Regions from separate parts of the Homo sapiens genome. Here regions 2 and 3 are each linked to region 1. Evidence: fine-mapped expression QTL. A gene starts in region 1. Each other region holds a variant in brackets. All regions are shown on one strand. Distances are between the middles of the regions. Region 1 holds the start of ANAPC4 (anaphase promoting complex subunit 4). Region 2 holds the start of LOC105374536 (a long non-coding RNA gene). Region 3 overlaps ANAPC4 (anaphase promoting complex subunit 4).

Evidence for each region. PIP is the estimated chance that this variant, and not a neighbour inherited with it, causes the effect.
Region 2: its variant is the best candidate, but not a certain one, in a credible set for the expression of ANAPC4 in lung (GTEx, PIP 0.52).
Region 3: its variant is the best candidate, but not a certain one, in a credible set for the expression of ANAPC4 in follicular helper T cells (Schmiedel 2018, PIP 0.76).

Annotation. Positions count from the first base shown.
Region 1 is chr4:25,374,784-25,378,783 of GRCh38, reverse strand. ANAPC4 (anaphase promoting complex subunit 4) reads right to left here and starts at 1,521. Exons shown (of 29, transcript NM_013367.3): 1 at 1,440-1,521; 2 at 1,228-1,366. The coding sequence starts at 1,356. RefSeq lists enhancers at 1,119-1,188, 1,219-1,278 and a silencer at 1,399-1,818.
Region 2 is chr4:25,421,993-25,426,340 of GRCh38, reverse strand. LOC105374536 (a long non-coding RNA gene) reads right to left here and starts at 1,876. Exons shown (of 4, transcript XR_925494.3): 1 at 836-1,876. The variant A/G (reference allele first, on the strand shown) is at 2,058.
Region 3 is chr4:25,395,497-25,399,844 of GRCh38, reverse strand. It overlaps ANAPC4 (anaphase promoting complex subunit 4), which reads right to left. Exons shown (of 29, transcript NM_013367.3): 15 at 3,081-3,181; 16 at 2,946-2,997. Among named protein-coding and RNA genes, the nearest start is that of ANAPC4, 20 kb to the right of the region's middle. The variant G/A (reference allele first, on the strand shown) is at 1,788.

The sequences.
Region 1 (4,000 bases):
ATAATAACACCGATCTCATGTGGGTCTTAACACTGACTGGCAATCCTATTAGGTTTCCCAAGTCCACCTGCTTTGTTAGCTTTTTCATACCTCTTCTTTCTCCTCAAACTTCCAATATATTCTTCTCCATCTTCACCCATAAACAATGCCCTTGCTTCTTCCTTCACTGAGAAAATGGATGTAACAGTGCCCTCTATCACGCCTACCCATCTGATTGCACGGATGTGCCTCCCGTCTACCTTCCCTCCTACTTCTGTGACGGTACCACCTGCTGCTCTCTAGAGCCACAACAGAGTTTCAAAGCATCCCGGCAGCGGAGGGAGACTAGCTAGATTTCATGGAGGGCCCTGAAAAATTAGACATCAATACCCTGGCGACTGGATCATGGTAGATAACATGGTGCAGACTACAGTCTGCAGGGTGCTAAGATTTCCTTATCACCTAGTTTCCAAATTTGGCTCTATACAACTCTCACATGGCCAGATAACTCTCAAGCCAGAGGCGGAAAGATGCACAGGTGAAGGTTTCCTTACAAAATGGCTGGCAGGTAATAACTCTCAGCAGAAAGTTGGGTACAACTGGTTTATACTCGATGAAGTTTTATGTGAACAAGAAATGCTGATAACACCCATGCACGTTCTGTCTGGAATCCAATGCATGCCTTCCTTGTCCAATTTAGAGGTATTTTTAGTGGAGGGTGGTTATCCAACCCGTACTATAAAACGTGGACAAGAGAAGCCAGGTTCTTAAATATATCCTGTGTGGCAGCTACATGCAGGCACATTTGCAGCTGAAGTTTGACAATAACTCTTCCTACTGCTATTAAAACTGTAAGCAAACTTAGGGCAGGGTCCCTGCATCTACCATTATGTCTAGCTCATGAGCAGCACATAGTGGGCTTTTTTAAAAAGTTCATTTAACTAATAAACCAATGAGTGAAGAAGACTTGGGGAAGCAGGATTGCGTGACGGTGTTAAGCTGTGTGAAAACTGTTACTTTAGCCATAAAAGTACCGAAAATAGCACAGACATCACCTTTCGCATATATACTTAAAGTTTACTGCCGTCCTGGGAGGCAGGGAAGGGGTAGCAGGTGGCCAGCCATGTCTGCAGAAGGGGAAACTGAGGCTCCGGCCGCCTGTGGCCCGAATGAACAGGCTCGGGCTCGGTGTTCTTGGGCCCCCCGGGAGCAGACCCAGCACAGGCGGGCTCCCGCCGGCTCACTCACCTCGCCAGCTGTGTTGGCCAAAGCAATGAGATCCCGCTTGGGCGACCAGACCAGGAAAATAATCTCCTGCGGGAGCTGCTTCTCTCCCACCACCCGGAAGGATGGGAAACAGGTCGGAAAACGCAACATGGGGACGGCCCTGCAACGACACCCCAGTCAGAGGCCGGCAGGAGCCCCCGGCTCTCCACGAGGAGCCCCGACCGCGCCTGTACCTGCAAGAGTCCCCACCGGCAGACTAACACGGCCCCAGTGGCCTCTCCCCTCCCTCTGCCGGCCGCGCGCCACAGCCTCCAGGCCGCCCCGCCCCGCCGCTGTCGCGCGCTCCAGGCACTTCCGGCGTCGGGACTGCCTCGCGAGAGGAGGAGGAGGGGCGGGGCGCGCACCGGTCTTGGGGGTGCTGAGAGCCAGAAGGGGCGGACAGGGACGGGGCGCGGTGGGCGGGGCAGGGAGGAGCGAGGGGCGGATCGAGGTGGGGGTAGGATGGGGCCCGTGGGCGGGGCAGGGAGCAGCGATGGGGCAGAGCTAGGAAGGGTGGGGCACGCGGGCGGGGCAGGGAGCCCCGAGGGGCGCGGAGAGGGAGGGAGCCGCGCGCCGGACCCAGGTGCTGGTGGGATCGCTGGGCGCCGGGACCTGAAAGGGCCCGAGAAGGGCGGGGCAGGCCCCTGCGGCCACACGCAGGTCTTTTGGGAACCCGTGTGTGCACGTGTGTGGGCATGCTTGCATACCTTTCCCGTTTTCCCGGAAATTCTCTGCTGTGGGCAAAGGGACGGTAGGGGTTTATGGGGTAGGCTTCAGCGACAACGGGGAGATGAAAAAGAATATGAACTTTAGGTCCTGATCAGCTGGCGCCTCCTCTAACAGTTACTAAGCGAGTAGTTCTCATGTCAGTCCTGGTGGGTCAGTATAGAATTTTAAAAGTCCCCCTGTCCAAGCAGCACCCCAAACCAATTAGAAGAAAATTAACCCTGGATGGGCCCAGTATTTACTAAAACTCTTTGGGTGATTCCAATTTGGAGAGAAGAGGCGCGTGCCCTAAAACCTCCCTAACAGGCAAATAATACTGTGACATCTCATCCCATTTAACCCTCACAACTTATTGGTAGTTGCAGCACCGTCATAACGAATAAAGAGTGTGGGCTCAGGGCCGGGCGCGGTGGCTCACGCCTGTAATCCCAGCACTTTGGGAGGCCGTGGCGGACGGATCACAAGGACAGGAGATAGAGCCCATCCTGGCTAACATGGTGAAACCCCGTCTCTACTAAAAAATACAAAAAAGTAGCCAGGCATGGTGGCGGGCACCTGTAGTCCCATCTACTGGGGAGGCTGAGGCAGGAGAATGGCGTGAACCCGGGAGGCGGAGCTTGCAGTGAGGCGGAGCTTGCAGTGAGGCGGGGCTTGCAGTGAGGCGGAGCTTGCAGTGAGCCGAGATTGTGCCACTGCACTCCAGCCTGGGCAACAGAGCCAGACTCCGTCTCTAAAATATAAAAAAAGAGTGTGGGCTCACACACGATTTCTTCTATAGGTACTTGGGCATTTACTATGTGGAGGAACTGAGGCTACAGCAATGCATGGGACGGGAACTCTGCCCAGAGGCTCACAGGCCAGCCTGGCAGACTTGTAAATCAGAACTCATCTGATGTTGCTTTATGTAGGACACATTTAAATGAGTCAACCTGTTGACAGTTCCCACAGCTATGACCTCCCTAAGAGAATGTGACAGTACCATCCTAGGGTTCTTAAACTTAAAACCTATGGTAGAAAGCCATCTACTTTTTACTACCTTTCACTTGTTCAAAGAAGAAACAGACGGCAGGTCCTTTAACTTTCAACAGGCCCCATCTTCTTGACCTCTGTCTGGATCTAGCCCCTGGGAAGTAGATGACGGAGGGAGACTAATTCATTCAGCATCAAGTAACTATTTTGTGCCAAGTACTGTTCTTAATCCTTGACTTTATACCTACCCTGCTTCCTGTCACGGGCTTTGCAGCCCTTGCCTTTGCCACAAACAACTTACCAAGTGCCCCCAACTCTTCCAGAATCAACATTTCTAAGGTAAAAATGCATTTGCCTTTGTTTTTCACAAAATGCATTTTCAGGTGTTAGTGTTTTGGGGCAGTTATAATGGATCACCTGGTGGGGGTCTAGTATCTATGCACATTAACCTTCTTACGGAAATTGAATGTCCATTTTCCTGGAACTTACCTGAATACAAACACCCATACAGCACGTGAAAATCACTGTTCCCAGAGGCATAAACACCGTACTGCAAAGGACAGAGTATAACCACCTGCACATTAAGTCTTCACAGAATATAAATTTTCTAAGCCTTACAGCAAAGGAAACAGCCTAAGTGTGGAGTTCCAGATGTGGGCAGGAAACAGCAGAGTTTTATGCTGCTATAGACCAGGGGTGTCCAATCTTTTGTCTTCCCACATTAGAATCGTCTTGGGCTACACATTAAATACATTAACAGTAATGACAGCTGATGAGCTAAAAAAAAAAAATCACAAAAAAAATCTCACAATGTTTTAAGAAAGTTTATGAATTTGTGTTGGGCTGCATTCAAAGCCCTCCTGGGCCACAGGCTGCGAGTTAGACAAGCTTGCTATAGACCCTCATGTGTGTTGGTAGGCAGTAAGGGGCAGGAATTGTTCTTGGAAATGATCCAAAGTAGCCGTAAGACAAGAAATATTAACACATCGTGTTTCCAGCCTTTTCTTTTTCCCACTGCCCCATAAAGATTTTAGCTCTACCTACTCCGTTTTTTGCCTCC
Region 2 (4,348 bases), 47 kb before region 1:
CACACACACACACACACACAGAGTGGGAAATCTCCCTTCTTTTAGCCTGGTAAGCTGGTAGCCTCTCTGGGGAGAGTACAGCTCTGTCTCCGCGAAGCCTGAAGACACACAAGAGATCTCTTAAGGTGTCCAGCCTGGCCAACACAGTGAAACCCCATCTCTAACAAAAACACAAAAATTAGCTGGGTGTGGTCACGGGCACCTGTAATCCCAGCTACTTGGGAGACTGAGGCACAAGAATCCCTTGAACCCAGGAGGCAGATGTTGTAGTGAGCTGAGATTGTGCCACTGCACTCCAGCCTGGTGACAAAGTGAGACTGTCTTAAAAAAAAAAACTCTCTTAAGGTGACAAAGGATGCATAAGTAACACTGGCTTTGTACAAGCACTGTCTTGGAGGAAAGCACACTAAACTACGGGGTCAGAAGCCCAGGTTCTGGTCCAAGGTCTACCAGACATCATTCCTCACAGCCTGTTTCCGCAGAGCCGATGGTGGCTATGAATGAAGGACCTCTGAGAAAAACAAAGCTCATCACGAATGCAAGCCTGGCCATCCTTGCTGGCCTGTGCCACACAGACACTCAAGTAGTTGTGCCACTGCAGGAAGACCGAGCTCTGTGAGTGCAGCCATGGGCAAGGCAGGAGGGGCCAAAGGATCCAGGCCCCAGAAAGGAAACATGTGCAGTGGCTGAAGGAATGGGTCCTGTGGCCAGACTGCCTGGTTTCCCATCCCAGTCCCACCCTGCTGCCCGTGTAATTCCTGTGGACAACTTAGTAAACATCTCTTGGCCTCAAGTCCTTCATCTGTGAAATGATGCTAATAATAATAGCACTTACCTTGTAGGACTGTGATGATGTTTAGGTAAGTATCCATGGAATGTTCTTGGCATGATTTCTGACTCTTACTAAATAATCATGTTAGCAATTATTCTTATCTGGAGTCAGACCACCTGTTTTGCATCCAGGCCGTTCCGCCTACTAGCTGCGTGATTTGGGACACGTCAAACCAAATCTCTCTCAACTTTTCTGTAAAATAAGATGAGCAATCCCTTTATTGCAGAGTTAGTTGTTTAGAGAATTCTGTGAGAATGTATATAAAAAGCACCTTGCAATCTCTCCCATGCTATTTCTCTTCCACAGCCAATTCTGCATAGGAGAACCTTAAAAAGCCAAATGCAGACAGGAAAAATCTGGGGGAGGGACAGAGGCAGGTGCAGGCAGTAACCCTTCGATCATGAACCTCTTGTCCGGCCAAGCACACAGGAATTTCATGTACAATTTGGCAGCTCCAGAGGCTCCCAGGTCCAGCTGGGTCTAGGCCCTACTGGATCTGCTAAGTAGCGAGCTGAAGCCCAGTGCCAATTCCTAGGGGCCTGGGAACTGAGGCCAAGCCGAGACTTGCCTGCCTCATTCCCCAAATGGCCAGAGGTGCCTGGACTGGGCAGTTAGTTCCCCTTAAGAAAATCTTCAGACCACCCAGGAAAGGTTTGGCGATATGGACCACATTGGCCCAGAGCTAGGAAGGCCCTGGACTGCACCTTCACAGGGCAACAAACTGACTGTTCAGTTCATCCCGCCTCACCCAGCCTCCTGACCTGGACTTTGAGCAGGCGCTTGCTCAGGCCCACTCTCCACGCAGTCATCTTGGGCCCTCTCCTCCCTGTGCCACACACATAATTGTGTCTGTAACCAACAGTGCACTAAAGACAAAATTAGGCAGGACAGCAACCACAAAGACCCCCTTCCTAAAACACCTGGGGATTGCTACTGGTTCCAGATTTAAAATAATCGGAAATGACCACTTCTCCCTGCCTTGGGGTTAAAAAGAAAAGAAGAAAGAAGGCCAGGTATGGTGGCTCACACCTGTAGTCCAAGCACTTTGGGAGGCTGAGGTGGGAGGACTGCTTGAGCCCAGGGTTTCAAAACCAATCTGGGTAACATGGCAAGACCCCGTCATTACAAAAAAAAAAAAAATTAGCCAGGCGTGGTGGCATGTGCTGTTAATCTGAGCTACTCGGGAGGATTGCTTGAGCCCAGGAGATCAAGTCTGCAGTGAGCC[A/G]TGTTTATGCCACTACACTTTAGCCTGAAGCCTGGGTAACAGAGCAAGATCGTGTCTAAAATAAAATAAAATAAAATTAAATTAAATTAAAAAGTCCACCACCATTAGAGCCCTTAATCTTACCTCCCAGGTGTGAGGAGCACTAACCTACAGTAGACAGAGATTCAAAGGCAGTGGCCATGCTTACAGGTTGGCTTAGTCTTTTTATCCTGTTCTCATGTCCTTTCTAACCACAGGTGTCTGTTAGGAGCTCCTCCAGGGCAGTCCAGTCCCCCTGGGCTTAGATCCCAGCCTTGCTACTAACTGACTAGGTAGGTGCCTGACCCTCCTCTGGGTCTTTCAAGGTAGCAAGAGTCTCAGAAGCAGTTTTTCCTTCTGCTCTCAATACCCCACTGATACCTCCTCATTCACGGGTGACCTCAGGACCCAACTCACTGTTACCATCTCCATCTGCTTTTGCAACTTTACCAGCCACACAGATGAGCCATCCAAAACCCCAGCCACTCAGCTCTGAATCTACTTGGCTCCAGTGACTTTCCCCTTCACACCAATAGCAGCTGCCAACTGCCATGGTTATACCTGTCATCAGAGACTTCACCACCTCCCTAAGACTGCCAATGTCTCTTCTCTGGTCATAGCCTCTTTATTTCTATCCCTCTGATTCTAAAACTCCATAATTCTCTCATTTTCCAATCTGAGACACCTATTTTCTACCTCTCCTCTCCTCATCACTCTCCATAAAGACCTGAACACTTCTCTCCGAGGGAAAAATGCTACACCTGCCACGCGGTGCTGCACCCACCAGCACCTGTCCCCACAGACTCCCATTAGGGTGGAAGAAAGTCATGTTCCACCCTACGCTCGATCCCTGCAATGGTCACTGGGCCCTAGCCCTTTTAGCCTTCTCAAGGATTTCTTCCAGCGCATCTCCTTTTACTCTAGAATGGTCAATTTCTCCTTCTTTGGTGGATCACTCATATTGACGAATAAAGATGCCTAGTATCATCCATCTTTCTAAAAAAAGTTCTCTGGTGCCATTTCCCTCCCCTGCCACCACTCCATCTCTGTGCCCCTCACAGCAAAATCCTCCAGAGTTGCCTCCACTTGGCCTCCACTGACTCACCTCACATCCATTCTACACCCATTTCAATAGGGCTCCTGTCCTCAACACGCCTCCAAGTTTCTATCAGGGTCACAACTGACATGCAGCTTTTCAGAGGTAATGGGCAATTTTCCATCTCGCTGTTTCTCCGCAGCATCTGATATGCCTGACTACACCAGCCTGAAAGGTGTCCATTGAACTGGTCACTTGGGTGTCCTGCCACCTGGGCCATGTAGTCTCCTCCTTCTCCAGTGGAGAAAATGGGCCCTACACCTTGCAGGGCCCCAGAACAATGGTCTCAGCCAGCCCCTTTGCTATCCACACTCTGCCGCTAGATCTTAACTTTCCATCCCAAGAGAACGAGGATATATATATATATGTATACATATATACATACACACACACACACACACACACACACACACACATATATATCATACATATAATTTATTTGAGACAAGGTCTCTGTCACCCAGGCTGGAGTGCAGTGACACAATCAGAGCTCACCACAGCCTCCACCTCCCAGGCTCAATCCCTTGCACCTCTGCCTCCTGAGTAGCTGGGACTATAGGCATGCACCACCACGCCCAGCTAATTTTTGTATTTTATAGACACGGGGTTTGCCATGTTGCCGAAACTCCTGAGCTCAAGCAATCCACTCACCTCGGCTTCCCAAAGTGTTGGGATTATAGGCGTGAGCTACCTGCCAGGCCCATAAATATTTTTAATCCTTGAATCTCTCTTCCTGCAACAATTTGGCAGGACAAAGTAAGCGGTGGAAAGGAAAAAGGGAAGTAACATATTCTCAAGGTTAGAAAGTTTTGCAGTATCATGAAAATGCTGACAATCACGAGGATCATTTATAGCAAGCTGGCCACTCCTCCAGTTTGGGCTCCACCCAGTTTTACTATCTGAACAGTGGACAGAAATATCACTTGAAAGAATAATATTCACTCTGTAACAGGAATCAGGAATGCAGAAATGAAGAAAAACAGTCCCTAAAGTTTTCAGTCATAAATCTGATGGCAGGAAGCACAAACAACAAACTTGTCTTGTTTTACTGCTTAAAACATAATAAGCCAGTAAACATAAGTTTCACTTATAGTCATGTTGTGGGACAGATTTATCATCTGTACCGTGATAACTACACATTACACCTCATATCTTGAGCAGTGAGTTCAGTCTGACT
Region 3 (4,348 bases), 21 kb before region 1:
TCAGGTCACTCCTGTTCTCTGTGCACACTCATTACCTCATCCAGTCCCATGGCTTTAAATAACACCAATGTGCTGATGGCTCCCAAATGCACATTTCCAGCCTGGACCCCTCCCTTGAACGCTAGTCTCACATAACTAACACTGTGCTGGACAGCTCCACCTGCAGATCTAATGGGCATTTCAAATTCCATACATCTAACACACTGACAGGGTGGCCGAAATTAACATCACTGAGAGGGGTGGATGACGGACACTGTGTGTGCTGCTGGATATGACAACTTGAGAAGGACATACCAATTATGTAGTATTTCTGGCCAGGGATGCATAACCTAAATATAATCATTAAAAAAAATCAGATAACCCTAAAATGAGAAACATAAAAAAAGATACACAGACATACATATACATACATACATGATGTGCTTCTTAAAGAAATGTCAACTTTTATAAAAGACCAAGAAAATTTAAGAAACTGCTCAAAATTAAAGAGACACAGCAACTAAAACAAATACGTGATCCCGAACTGCATCTTATCATACTGGACATATTGGGATAACTGCTAAAGGGGAATTGAACTGTAGGTTAATATACTGTATTAATGTTAAAAATTCCTAAATTTGTTAACTGTACTGTGGTTATGTAAGAAAATAATTTTATTCTTAGAAAATACGCACTAAAGTATTCCAGGTAAAAGGCACCTGATATAAACAACATACTCTCACATGTTTCAGAAAAGATAAATTATATGATAAATACAGTATAATATTTTTAAATGATGAATCAAGTAAAGGAGTACTAGCAGAGTTGTCTCTATTATTCTTGTAATTTTTATGTAAAATTACTTCAAAATAGTAAGTCTAAAGAACAATCTAGTATGTCCAAACCAAACTCTTGATCTTACTCTACACTCCCCCTCCCTAAACCTGCCCTCACATTTGTTCCCCCTTTCAGTAAATATCAATTCTACTCTTTCAAGTACCAAGGCCCTAAACTCATAATTATCTATGACTCCCTTATTATCACCATCTACAGATAAGCATTGAGAAAATCTTGTTAATTACATTCTCAAAATATATCCCAATCCTGACCACTTCAGATTCTGACCACCATTTCTCTCTTGGCTTCTGTCCTTGCCTATCTATGAGCTATTCTCAACTCTGAGCAGCAAGAGGGATCTTTCTGAAGCCTAAATCATATCCTCTCCACTACTCCCAAATCCCCAAGGGCTTCTCTTTACATCCAGAGTAAAGGCCAAAGTCCTAACAACTGCCCACAGACTCTATGCAACCTGGCCATCCTCTATCACCTGTCAATCCACCTCCTACCTTACTCTCATTCAATCTGCTTCAGCTATAGTGCCCTTGTCCCTGCAACATGCCAGGCATGCTCCAAACTCAGGGCCTTCACACTTGCTGCCCCTTCCACCCCCAAATATCAACAGGGCTTGCTCCCTTCCGTCTCCTTCCAACTTCACCTTCTCAGTGAGGCCTCCCTGACCACCTATATAAAGTTGAATCCCCTACCTTATCATGCCCTAGGTCCTTGTTTCTTGCTTGGTTTTTCTCAACATTACTTATCACTGTATTTAAAACATAGTTAAGTGCTCAACAAATGTTTACTGACATTTGACAATAATCAAAAAACTCTCAGAAAATCAAAAAGACAAAGATATGAAAAATGTAAGAGAAAAAGAAAAGACACAGAAATCAATCCACCACAAATTCTAATATCTGACCAAACAGATTTCTAGAACAAAAATCTAGTTTAAAACAAAGAGAAAGCTTGGC[G/A]TAATGGCATACTCCTGTAGTCCCAGCTCCTCAGGAGGCTGAGGCAAGAGGATCACTTGAGCCCAGGAGCTCAAGTCCAGCCTGGGCAACATAGAAAGACCCCATCGCAAAAATAAATAAATAATAATAAAGTAAATAAAAGAGGGAGGAGTAAATTATTAAAAGAATAATACAAGAGAATTCAGGTTAAAATGGCTTATTATAGCACAATGAATTAAAAGGCCCACACCCAAAAACACTGTTATGAAATTTCAACATATCAAGAATAAAGAGTAATGCTTTTACAGCTTTTTCAAAACGAAAAAAAAAAAAAACTATAAAGGGCTAAGAATTAGAAGCACCAGACCTTCCATCAGCAACAAAAAGCACAGAATCCTATGGAACTCTGCTTTTGAAGTTCTATGTGAAAACCAATAACCCTCAGGGAATCCTAAAGCCAGCTGTCAATTAAGTGTGAGGGTAGGAGAAAAAACACAAAAGGAGATAAAGTTTACCTTCTATGTCTGCTTTTTGAGAAAGTTACTAGAGGATGTTTTCCAGCAAAATGATTAAATAAGCCAAGAAACAAAGGCAATCCTGGCAGTTCTGGGTCTAACCCAGGAGAGTAATGAAGAAAATGCCCGGGTGGTAGCCGTGCAGGAGAACTGGACCACAGCTGCAGGCTGAAGCAGAGGGGTGGGAGGCTAAGGAAGGCATCTGGAACAGGGGACTCCAGAGGTACTACACCACCCTTCAGAAGGGAAAGGACGGAAGGATGCAGAAAAAACAGACAATGCAAGAAAACAAGCAAGCCTAACAGTCTAAGAAAAACAAAACAAAGAGAATAACTTCTAAAAATTGACAAAAGAAATGTGGCATAGTCATACAATTTAGAAATATGGAGGTAACCCATAGAAGAACTAAAAATAGAAGTAGTTAAAGAGTTAAAATGATTCCCTCTGGCGAGAAGACCTGAGGTAAGGATGACCAGGACAGGAAAATACAGCTTTACTTTATAAATTCTCTGTGCTGCTGGCTTTTCGGAACCATATAAAGGCATAATTGTGATAAAAATTTAAAAACTGATTTTAAGAGAATCATAACAGCTTACTAGGTTCTTATTTAGGTCAAAAGTGACATATTCTTAGGTCAGTGATTCCAGGTACTCCCAATACTTACTGAAGAAGTTCATTTGCCTTGAGTATAAAAGAACCCACAGCAGTTATAGCTTCTAAAGGGAAAAAATAAATAAACGTCATTTGTCAAATAAGTAAACTGTGTTTAATGTATTTCACTGAGAAATTAAATCACTACCTTCGATTCCTGCAGCATCTAGTCCAAGAGGTTCATATTTTTGCTTCCATGAAGCCATTCCTTTCAATTCACTCAAATGGTATAATAAAGACTCCGAGCCACTATCCAAACAGAGCAGAAATAAATTAGTATCATGACGATCATCAAGTGACTAACTTGCCTGAATATTTCTAAATTTTCAGAAATAAAAACTGAAAGTAACTTTCATTTTGTTTCCATGAGAAATAATTATTTCTCAAAACTGTTCCTAAAAACTGCAGCAGAACCATCTGGTCAATGTGACTACAGAGATAAACAAATGACAAGATCAAATTTTGTAAGATGATCAAATTGTGTTCCACAGTTAGTCCTGACCCTTTTAAGACAGTTGTACAGCCATCTTGTTCACCCAACTACTACACAGTCAATGTTCAATAAATATTTCTTAAGTTCCCATTTTGGGTCAGGTACCGTGCTATATACTGGGGACATAACGGTGAACACAATCAAAGGGTCTCATGGCATTGACAGTATAACAGGGAAGACAGTCATGATCGCATAGTCATACAGTGTACCATTCCAACTACTATAAATGCCTTGAAGGAAACACATGGGGTGCAGGTATAACAGAAGAACCTGAGCTAATCTGGGATTCAGAAAGGCTTTTCTGAAGGAATGAATGAGCTGAGAGCTGAAGAATGCATGTGAAGAACAAGTTGGGACAAGAGGAATATGCAAAAGCCCTAGGCAGGAGACAAAATGTCAAGTTGGAGAAACTAAATGGCCATCAGTGTGGGCGAGGCAGAGAGGCAGGTATGCTAAAGGCCACACAAAGGTCTCCATTCTAACGGAAGGCATTAGAAGTTTTTAAGAGAGAAATATGTTTAGCTCTACTGGGGAAAATACATTCAAAGGACAGTGTGTACTGAAAGAGCCCAACTAGTCCAGAGGGTGCTACAGTGGTCCAAGGGAGGGGTGATGTAGTTAGGGCCAGGGACTCAGCATAAAGGAATATACCAAAATTTAAACCAAACACCACCAGGTGTGGTGGCTCATGCCTGTAATCCCAGCACTTTGGGAGGCCGAGGCAGGTGGATCACTTGCGGTCAGGAGCTTGAGGCCAGTCTGGCCAACACGGTGAAACCCCGTCTCTACTAAAAATACAAAAATTAGCCAGGCGTAGTGGTTTGCGCCTGTAATCCCAGCTACTTGAGAGGCTGAGGCAGGAGAATCGCTTGAACCCGGGAGGCGGAGGTTGCAGTGAGCCGAGATCACATCACTGCACTCCA